Linked DNA regions of Homo sapiens: region 2 is linked to region 1. The links come from fine-mapping of genetic effects on gene expression. A gene starts in region 1. The other region holds a variant in brackets. All regions are shown on one strand. Distances are between the middles of the regions. Region 1 holds the start of RAB13 (RAB13, member RAS oncogene family). Region 2 has its middle 19 kb from the start of HAX1.

The links. PIP is the estimated chance that this variant, and not a neighbour inherited with it, causes the effect. A credible set is the group of variants that fine-mapping cannot tell apart.
Region 2: its variant is the best candidate, but not a certain one, in a credible set for the expression of RAB13 in blood mononuclear cells (TOPMed, PIP 0.64).

The regions. Positions count from the first base shown.
Region 1 is chr1:153,983,644-153,989,015 of GRCh38, forward strand. It overlaps RAB13 (RAB13, member RAS oncogene family), which reads right to left and starts at 2,696. Exons shown (of 8, transcript NM_002870.5): 1 at 2,470-2,696; 2 at 1,078-1,138. The coding sequence starts at 2,593. RefSeq lists enhancers at 1,755-1,984, 2,298-2,799 and a silencer at 2,611-2,780.
Region 2 is chr1:154,289,294-154,294,665 of GRCh38, forward strand. No RefSeq gene overlaps it. Among named protein-coding and RNA genes, the nearest start is that of HAX1, 19 kb to the left of the region's middle. The variant A/G (reference allele first, on the strand shown) is at 2,463.

The DNA of each region.
Region 1 (5,372 bases):
TTCCTCTCTCACAAGAATTTAGCTTTTGTAACATGGTGGGGCAACAGAATAAGGAAACAGTAAAGGGGAACGGGATTAAAGACAGTTGAGCTGATTTCCAGAGATGGTAGTGGCCCAAGAAACAAGATGTCTTTGCTTATTCATTGAATGTTTGCTATGTGTCAAGCACTGTGTATGTATCATTTTATCTAATCCTTACTCTTTCCTTGTAAGACATGTATTATTGTCTCTATTTTAAAAATGAGGAAACACGCCAGGTGCCGTGGCTTGCGTCTATAATCCCAACACTTTGGGAGGCTGAGGCGGGTGGATCACCTGAGGTCAGGAGTTCAAGACCAGCCTGGCCAACATGGTGAAACCTCGTCTCTACTAAAAATACAAAAATTAGCCCGGCCTAGTGGCGGGCGCCTGTAATCCCAGCTACTTGGGAGGCTGAGGTCGGAGAATCACTTGAACCCAGGAGGCGGAGGTTAAAGTGAGCCTAGATTGTGCCATTGCACTCCAGCCTGGGTGACAAGAGCAAAACTCTGTCTCAAAAAAAAAAAAAAAAAAAAAAGAGGAAACAGATTTGGATAGGCTGAATAATTAATGAAGGTCAGGCAGGAGATAACTAAAAGAACCAGATTTGCGCACCAGTCTGCTCTTATATGTCATAGCATAATGCCTCCACTAAGCTTCATACCACTTAAACACCTTCAGGGTCTATATTTGGCTCTCTGGGCTCACCATATTTTGGAGAAAACACTAGACTTAGAGTCAAGTCTTAATTCTGCCTTTGCCATTTAACTGCTCACAGCCTGTTTCCATGTTATGACTGAACAGTTGTTTGTTGTCAAATTAAGAGGATGCTCTGCAGCCAGAGGAGGCAAGAGTTACAAAAGAGTTGGAACTAGTTGGGAGAGCAGGAAGAGAGATGGAAGGACAGCTGAGTGCATCCGGAGAAATGCCAGAAGTGCTCCTTCTAGCACTTCTAGAAGGAGCAATGGGGAAAGGAAGAGAAATGAAACAAAATAGAAGGAAAAACGTGTAGGAGGTAAATGGGGAAGTCTGGCGAGGCATCCCAGAGGACTGACTTACCAGACTTGTAGTTTGATCTTCTTCCCCTCTATATCCACAGTGCGGATCTTGAAATCAATTCCTAGGGGTGGAAGGTATGCACTGAAGTTGAGACATGCATGCACACATGTAAAACTGTGTGATGGAAGGGACAGGAACGGAGCAGTGCTGGCACCAGAAATTCTGCAGGGGAGGCACTTGGGGAACAATCTTGTTGGAAATGCCAAGCTAGGAGAATTTTCCCAAAGCTGTATTTGTATAGCAAGAATACTATTTTTACGTACATTTTATGGATTTTGGGAGGGAAAAGGTGACGAAAATTCTGCATGGAGGCTTAAAATCCTTAGGCTGCCTCTTGGGTCCATTCAGTTATACCAGCTGACAACTCTCTGAATTCAGTCTCTGTCTCCCCCCAGATATTACTTTCACATTCCTCTTCTCTGTTTTCTTAGAGCCCTCTACTCTTGGTATCCCACCTACCCTCCTAGTAGAGAGTAAGGAAAAAAGTAGCTGAAGCCAGTCTATGTGAATTAACTAGTGGGCCAAACTTGGCACTAGGAAAGTCTGAGGCTAAACAGGATTACTTTTGAGACAATTAGGAAAGAGGGGCATTTTTCCTTTTCCTTTGTAACCAGAATTGTCGTGAGACTCTTCCTGTCTATTTCCCAAGCCAGAGGAGATGAAGAAAGAAGAGAAGGGAGGAGGGGAGACAATGTTCTTCTTAGTAGAAACTTGGGCACCTCCCCCAAGCCTGCTGGGGGCCCCTGGGAGGAGGATGAGTCACCAGGCTGACTCAGAGACCCCAAAAGTCCCCTCATTTCCACGTTCCTCACCAAGCTGGCTGCATATTCATGATCACAGTCCTTGGGCCACCCTCCAGCACACCCAGCCACCTTGTTCCACCCTTCCCAAACCCTTGTTCAGCTGAGGTGCAGGGAGACTGGGGCAGGGAACCTGGGAAGTAGATGGTGAGGTGGGGACACAGTGGGAGAGTTTGAAGCTCAGCAAGACAGAAAGAGGCTAGCATCGGATCGGGAGAAAAAGATGTGGCGGACAGGGATACAGGAAACATGGAGATAGGATCGAGAGAGTTCTAGGTGGTGGGGGTAGGGGAAGAGGGGAACAGAGAAAAATAGAGAAGAGTTCTTGTGGATTTGGGGAGACTAAGGCGATGGTACCAAGAAAATGAGGAGCTGGCAGCAGTTGAAGAGTTACCTGAAGGCCTCAGAGAGGTGAGAGGTTTGGTTACTATACAGAGACATGCACGGGGGAAGGGTCAGAGCCAGGGGTTGAGGGACTAGAATTTAGGAGCCTTACTCTAAGGGGACTGAAAAGTGGGGTCACTAGTAATCCGGGAGCCGGAGAAGGAGGTCACAGGAGAGTCGGGGTCTGGGACATGGCCAGCGGGCTCACCGATGGTGGAGATGTAAGTGTTGTTGAAGTTGTCCTCTGCAAAGCGAATGATCAGACAAGTCTTGCCCACCCCCGAGTCCCCGATCAGCAGCAACTTGAAGAGGTGGTCGTAGGCTTTGGCCATGGCGGACACCGGGGGAGCCGGGGGAGGGGTGGGGAGCGCCCGGCACTGGTAGGCGGGACTGGACGGTTGGCAAACAGAGCGGCACGGAGCCCAGGCCAGGAAGAAGTTTTCCTCCCTCTCCGCCCAGGCTCCGGGAAAGAGGAGAGGCGGCACCCCTCCGGGCTCCACCCCCTGCCCGCCCACCCTTTTGAGCAGGCCAAGGCTGCCAGCCCGGCCTCTGTTCTCTCGGTTTTCCCTTCCTAGCTTAGGCCGGCCTGTCTCTCTCGCTATTTTCCACAGCCTTTCGGTAATTGTAGCTCCCCTCTTAGGACCTTACTCTTCCATTCTGAGGCCAGAGAGGCTGGGGTGAAGGGAAGTAGAGGTTTAACCACGACGACCAGAAATTTTAGAAGAGAAATTTTAGAGGGATTAGGGGAAGAGAACCAAGAGTTTTGGGAATAAGGGTGAAGGTAGGGAGAGCACTAGAAATTGAAAAAAAAAAATGGGGCTGAGTTTTGGAGATGCTATTCAACGAAGCTAGAAGATGAGTTATCATCGGTTTCTGGGGCTGAGTAAAAGGCAGTCCTAGAATTTTACTGTTAGTTGTCCAAGCCCTTAGTTCTATGGGTCCCAATTCACTTTGAAAAAAGCGGGATGCGCAGAAGTAGGTTATTTGTTGAGTCAGTCTGCCCCCTGGTGGAACAGGGTGAAAACGTAAATTAGTTATACAGAATCGGCCCCACCACCCCAACACACACAGCCTACCTAGACACATCCTGGGGCTTCAGTTGGAACGATCTCTCTTATGGGGACCCATGTGTGATTTCTCTGACCAAATAGCTTAGGAAAACAGAGATTTGAACTAAAAATGTCATTCTTTACGTGAATCTTTTAATATGGCCCACTTAAGGTGCAGTACTCCTGAAATCTCACTCAATAGGCCATGAATGTGTAGCCTTGGTAACCAGGAAGCTGAAATATGAACAGCACGGGTATAAAGAAACAAGTTTGCCGGGCGCGGTGGCTCACGCCTGTAATCCCAGCACTTTGGGAGGCCGAGGCGGGCGGATCACGAGGTCAGGAGATCGAGACCATCCTGGCTAACATGGTGAAACCCCATCTCTACTAAAAATACACACACACACACAAAATTAGCCGGGCGTGGTGGCAGGCGACTGTAGTCCTAGCCACTTGGGAGGCTGAGGCAGGAGAATGGCGTGAACCCGGGAGGCAGAGCTTGCAGTGAGCCGAGATTGCGCCACTGCACTCCAGCTTGGGCGACAGAGCCAGACTCCGTCTCAAAAAAAAAAAAAAAAGAAAGAAAGAAAGAGAGTAAAAGAGAAACAAGTTTATCTCTGCCTTTAGAAAAAAATTATTCTTGCTATATGTGTGCTGGGGGTGGAAAAAAATACGAAACACGAAAGAAAGAAAATATTATCTAAGACCTGTTGCGGTGGCTCACACTTGTAATCCCAGCACTTTGGGAGGCCAACGTGAGAGGATCCCTTAAGCCCAGGAGTTCAAGACCAGCTTGGGCAACATAGTGAGACTGCTTCGACAAAAAAAAAAAAAAAAAAAAAAAAAAATTAGCCATACATGGTGGTGTGGCCTGTAGTCCCAGCCGCAGCTACTTGGGGGACAGAAGTGGGCAGAACACTTGAGCCCAAGAGTCCAAGGCTGTAGTGAGCCACGATTATGATGCCACTGCTCTCCAGCCTCGGTGATAGAGTAAGATCCTGTTTCAAAAAAATTTTTTATTTATTTTTTAATTAATTAATTAATTTTTTTGAGACAGAGTCTTGCTCTGTCGCCAGGCTGGAGTGCAGTGGCGCAATCTCGGCTCACTGCAACCTCCGCCTCCCGAATTCAAGCGATTCTTGTGCCTCAGCCTCTGGAGTACCTGTAATCCTCTGGGATTACAGGTGCCCGACACCACGCCCAGCTAATTTTTGTATTTTTAGTAGAGATGGGGTTTCACCATGTTGGCCAGATGGTCTCGATCTCTTGACCTTCTGATCCGCCCGCCTCGGCCTCCCAAAGTGCTGGGATTACAGTCGTGAGCCACCACGCCTGGCCCTATTTTTTTTTTTTTTTTGAGACGGAGTCTTGCTCTGTCGACCTAGGCTGGGGTGCAGTGGCGCGATCTCGGTTCACTGCAAGCTCCGCCTCCTGGGTTCACGCCATTCTCCCGCCTCAGCCTCCTGAGTAGCTGGGACTACAGGCGCCCGCCACCACCCGGCTAATTTTTTGTATTTTAGGGAGAGACGGGGTTTCACCGTGTTAGCCAGGATGGTTTTGATCTCCTGACCTCGTGATCTGCCCGCCTTGGCCTCCCAAAGTGCTGGGTTTACAGGCGTAAGCCACCGCGCCCGGCCTATTTTTATTTTTATTTTTTTAATTTTTATTGTTTATTTTGAGGTGGAGTTTCGCTCTTGTTGCGTAGGCTGGGGTGCAATGGTGTGATCTGGGCTAACCGCAGCTTCCGCCTCCCTGGTTCAAGCGATTCTCCTGCCTCAGCCTCGCGAGTAGCTGAAATTACAGACACCCGCACTACCCCCTGCTAATTTTGTATTTTTAGTAGAGACGAGCTTTCTCCATGTTGGTCAGGCTGCTCTCGAACTCCCGACCTCAGGTGATCCACCCACCTCTGCCTCCCAAAGGCCTGGGATTACAGGCGTGAGCCACTGCGCCCAACCTTTGTTTTTACTTTTATTTTATTTTTTGAGACAAAGTTTTGCTCGTCACCCAGGCAGAAGTGCAATGGCTCAATCTCTGGTCACTGCAACCTCCGCCTCTTGGG
Region 2 (5,372 bases), 310 kb after region 1:
GAAAAAGATGTATATATATATACACATATATATATTTATATATATGTATATGTATATGTATTTTTATATATATGTATTTATGTATAAATATATATATATATATATATTTTTTTTTTGAGATGGAGCCTCGCTCTGTCTCCCAAGCTGGAGTGCAATGGCGCGATCTCCACTCACTGCAGCCTCCAACTCTTGGGTTCAAGTGATTTTCCTGCCTCAGCCTCCCAAAGTGCTGGGATTACAAGCATGAGACACCGCCCCCAGCCCTGGCTATGTTAATAGAGATTCTTTATGGATGTAGATTTTCCCCACAAAGAACAGCTTTGCAGGGGCATTTTAAAATATGACAAAGAAACATGTTTTGGGGTAAAATATTTTGATTTTCTTCTTTGTCTCGTAATGTTATACCAGAGTCAGGTTGGAAAGTAAATCATGATATATAGGGTTAAATAAAACCTATCTGATGAGAATTTATGATTTGTAGGTCATGACTCCCCAGATCCCTTAGATAGGAATTTGGGCAAGATAAAAAAAATTAGAGTTTAGTCCTCAACTCCTTCATATACGTTACAGAGAAACTTGTGTCTAGATTCATAAGGGGTCACATGCAAGAATATTTATCACAGCATTATTTGTGGAAGCTCAATGTTAGAACTCAGTTTTGGGTGACTTTCATTAGCAAAGTAGAAAGGTTAAATATAAGCCTGGTGCAGTGGCTCACGCCTGTAATCCCAGCACTTTGGGAGGCTAAGGAGAGCAGATCACCTGAGGTCCGGAGTTCGAGACCAGCCTGGTCAACACGGTGAAACCCTGTCCCTACTAAAAATACAAAAATTAGCTGGGCATGGTGGCAGGCGCCTGTAGTCCCAGCTACTTGGGAGGCTGAGGCAAGAGAATCGCTAGAACCTGGGAGATGGAGGTTGCAGTGAGCTGAGATCACGCCATTGCACTCCAGCCTGGGCAACAGAGCGAGACTCCATCTCAAAAAAAAAGAAAGAAAGAAAGAAAAAGAAAGGTTAAATATGGGAGTTGCATAGTATAGAATGCTACTCAGCAGATATACAAAATATTCAAAAGACAACATGGAGAGATCTTAAAAATAGTAATGAGTGAAAAAACAAAACCATATTGTTTGCACAGTAACACTCATGTCAATTTAAAACTACACCAAGGAACGTGCGCGGGGTTCATGCCTGTAATCCCAGCACTTTGGGAGGCCGAGGCAGCAGATCACCTGAGGTCCGGAGTTTGAGACCAGCCTGGCCAACATGGTGAAACCCTATCTCTACTAAAAATACAAAATTACCTGGGCATGGTGGCAGGCACCTGTAATCCTAGCTACTTGGGAGGCTGAGGCAGGAGAATCGCTTGAACCTTGAAGGAAGAGGTTGCGGTGAGCCGAGATCACACCATTGCACTCCAGCCTGGACAACACAGCGAGACTGTCTCAAAAAAAATAAAAATAAAAATAAGATACATTAAAATAAATAAATAAATAAAAACTACACCAAGGAACTTCTGGCTATAGCAGTGTAAAGGGATCTGTGAATCTTCACCAAAAAAACTATGAAATTAAATAAAATTGCCCCAAACAATGATTTCAAGTCTCTGGAAACTGAGCAAGGCAGAAAACAAATTGAGGAGCTTTTATTCTTGAAAAACTGCTACAGCTTCAAGCAAAAGCAATGTGAGTTTGCAGCCTTCTTGCCTGAGGCTGCTCCCATCCAACTTCCTTGGTGGCTGGGAACTGTAGTTTTACCAGTATGGAACTGGCTGTGAAAATCAGCAATGTTTGCTGTCACAGTGGGTAGACTGAAATTGTAGGAGTTAGTTAGGTGGAGGCGGACAAAAGCCTACAATGTTCTCAGCTGAATGATATGAAGTTGGTAGGAAATAAACAGGCAAAAAACCCTCTAGCTGTACTAACTCAAAGTAGCACTCCTAGTTGTGTTCAGTGGTGGAAAAGCCAGAAATTTAGCTGGAAAATAGGAAACTACAAAAGGGCTGAGATAAGCTCTCCCACATCCCTGGCTCACTGGGAAACTATCATATGCATGGAGGATAGCTCAGAGAGCTCCCTGAAAAATAAAAGACAAGGAAGACTTGAACACTGCTGCACATTTTAATACACTTCTCATCCTTCAAACAGATATATTGGCAGAAGTGGATGCTATATGGGCTTGAGGTGTTGGAACACAATGCTTATTCTAATCATTGGCTGAACACTGTGCTATGTAAGCATAGGGGTGATACTGCTGCGGGATAATTAAGGAATCAGAGAGACCGAGGGATTGAGGAGGAGTTATTTAATTATTTAGGTTCACTGACCCAGTTGGATTAACATCCAAAGGACTGAGCCTGGAACAAAGAGTCAAGCTACCTTTTAAGCATTTCGTGGGGTGGGGGGAGATCTGTGCGGGGGGAAGCGTATTATAGAAGCGAGAGACAAAGACAGTTATTCAGTT[A/G]AGGCATGCATTACATTATTTCTTACTGTTCAAGGAACAACATGTTTTACGACTTGAGATTATCTGTCTAGTGACCTTGCAGCTGCACAGCTAGAGAAACAGAGTCTTCACAATGCCTGGTAAATGGAGAGATAAGGCTCACTAGCCACAGAGAGAAAAACAGGCAGTTAATTTTAAAGGACTCCAGCCCTTTCTGTTCCTCAAGGGGGAATTGGGTTTTCTTACATACAACTGAGTTTTTGCTTACACAGTCTTTAATTTTTTTTTTTTTTTTGAGACAGAGTCTCACTCTGTTGCCCAAGCTGGAGGGCAGTGGCGCCATCTTGGCTCACTGCAAGCCCCGCTTCCCAGGTTCACGCCATTCTCCTGCCTCAGCCTCCCGAGTAGCTGGGACTACAGGTGCCCGCCACCATGCCTGGCTAATTTTTTTGTATTTTTAGTAGAGATGGAGTTTCACCGTGTTAGCCAGGCTGGTCTCAAACTCCTGACCTTGTGATCCACCCACCTCAGCCTCCCAAAGTGCTGAGATTACAGGCATGAGCCACTGCGACCGGCCTACAGTCTTTAATTTCTTTTAATTCCTGTTCTAATCCTTGAGGGAACATTTTTTTTTTTTTGAGACGGAGTCTAACTCTGTCGCCCAGGCTGGAGTGCAATGGCTCGATCTTGGCTCACTGAAACCTCCACTTCCCAGGATCAAGCAATTCTCCTACCTCAGCTTCCCGAGTAGCTGAGAGTATAGCTGGGTGCCACCATGCCCGGCTAAATTTTGTATTTTTAGTAGAGATGGGGTATCGCCATGTTTGCCAGGATGGCCTCAAACTCCTGACCTCAGGTGATCCATCCACCTTAGCCTCCCAAAGTGCTGGGATTACAGACATGAGCCACTGCACCTGGCTGGAAAAATTTATTATTATTATTATTTGAGATAGGGGTCTCACTCTGTCACCCTGGCTGAAGTATAGTGGCATGATCTCGGTTCACTGCAACCTCTGCCTCCCAGTCGCAAGCAATCTTCCTACTTCAGCTCATGAGTAGCTGGGACCACAGGTACATGCCACCACTACCTGCTAAGTTTTTGTATTTTTAGTAGAGATGGGGTCTTGGTATGTTGCCCAGGCTGGTCTCAAACTCCTGAGCTCAAGCCGCTTTGGCCTCCCAAAAGTGCTGGGATTAAAGGTGAGCCACCATGCCTGACCCCTGTGGGAAAATTTTAAAAACAAGAATAAATGGCCGGGCATGGTGGCTCATGCCTGTAATCCCAGCACTTTCGGAGGCCGAGGTGGGAAGATCACCTGAGGTCAGGAGTTGAAGACCAGCCTGACCAACATGGAGAAACCCTGTCTCTACTAAAAATACAGAATTAGCCAGGCATAGTAGTGCATGCCTGTAATCCCAGCTACTCACTACTCAGGAGGCTGAGGCAGGAGAATCACTTGACCCCTGGAGGCAGAGGTTGCAGTGAGCCAAGATCATGCCATTGCACTCCAGCCTGGACAACAAAAGCAAAACTCCATCTCAAACAAAACAAAACAAAACAAAACAAAACAAAACAAAACAAACAAACAAACAAAAAAAACGAGAATAAAAACTGAGCAGACACATTAGCAGCTGCACACTGTGGAATGATAGACTCTACAGTTTAACTCCAGACAAATGACACACACACACACATCAGCATCACCAGCATCACCACCATTCAGAAAAATACAATAGAATCCAGACTCTACGGTTTAACTCCAAATTACACACACACACACACACACACACACACACACCCCATCAGCATCACCAGCATCACCACCTTTCGGAAAAATACAACAGAATCCAGAGTTATTACAGTCTATTATCTAAAATGACCAGTTTTTTAGAGGAGGAAGAGGATAAAATGATCAGTTTTCAAGAAAAAAATTATGACACATGCGAAGAAACCTAAAAAACAGTAACTCATATCCTGATTTTAAAAGTCAATGAAAACTAGCCGGGTGCAGTGGCTCACGCCTGTAATCCCAGCACTTTGAGAGGCCGAGGCGGGTGGATCACCTGAGGTCAGGTGTTTGAGACCAGCCTGGCCAACATGATGAAACCCTGTCACTACTAAAAATACAAAAATTAGTCAGGCATGGTGGTGGGCGCCTATAATCCTAGCTACTGGGGAGGCTGAGGCAGGAGAATTGCTTGAACCTGGGAGGCGGAGGTTGCAGTGAGCTGAGATCATTCCACTGCACTCCAGCCTGGGTGACAGAGCAACACTCTGTCTCCAAAAAAAAAAACAATAAAAAACAAAATAAAAACTGAGTCCAGGCACAGTAGCTCACACCTGTAATCCCAGCACTTTGGGAGGCCGAGGCTGGCAGATCACGAGCTCAGGAGATCAAGACCATCCTGGCTAACAAAAAAATTAGCCGGGCATTGTGGCGGGCGCCTGTAGTCCCAGCTACTTGGGAGGCTGAGGCAGGAGAATGGTGTGAACCTGGGAAGCGGGGCTTGCAGTGAGCCGAGATGGCACCACTGCACTCCAGCCTGGGTGATAGAGTGAGACTCTGTCTCAAAAAAAAAAAAAATAAATAAAAATAAAAACTGACTCTGAGTAGGCCCAGAAGTTGAATTTGGCAGACAAAGACTTTAAAGCACATATTATAAATATGTTCAAGGAATTAAATAAAAATGTTTAACAATGACTCAATAAATATGGAATCTCAACAGAGAAATAGAAGCTATAAAAAAAGAATCAAACAGAAATTCTAGAATTATAAAGTAAAATAACTGAAATGAAAATTTTACTAAATGAACCCAATAGCAGATTTAAGATAGCAGAGGAAAAATTTAATAAACTTGAAGATAGATCAATAATAATAATCTAGTCTGAATGACAGAGACAAAAATGATTGCAGGAAAGTGAACAGCTGG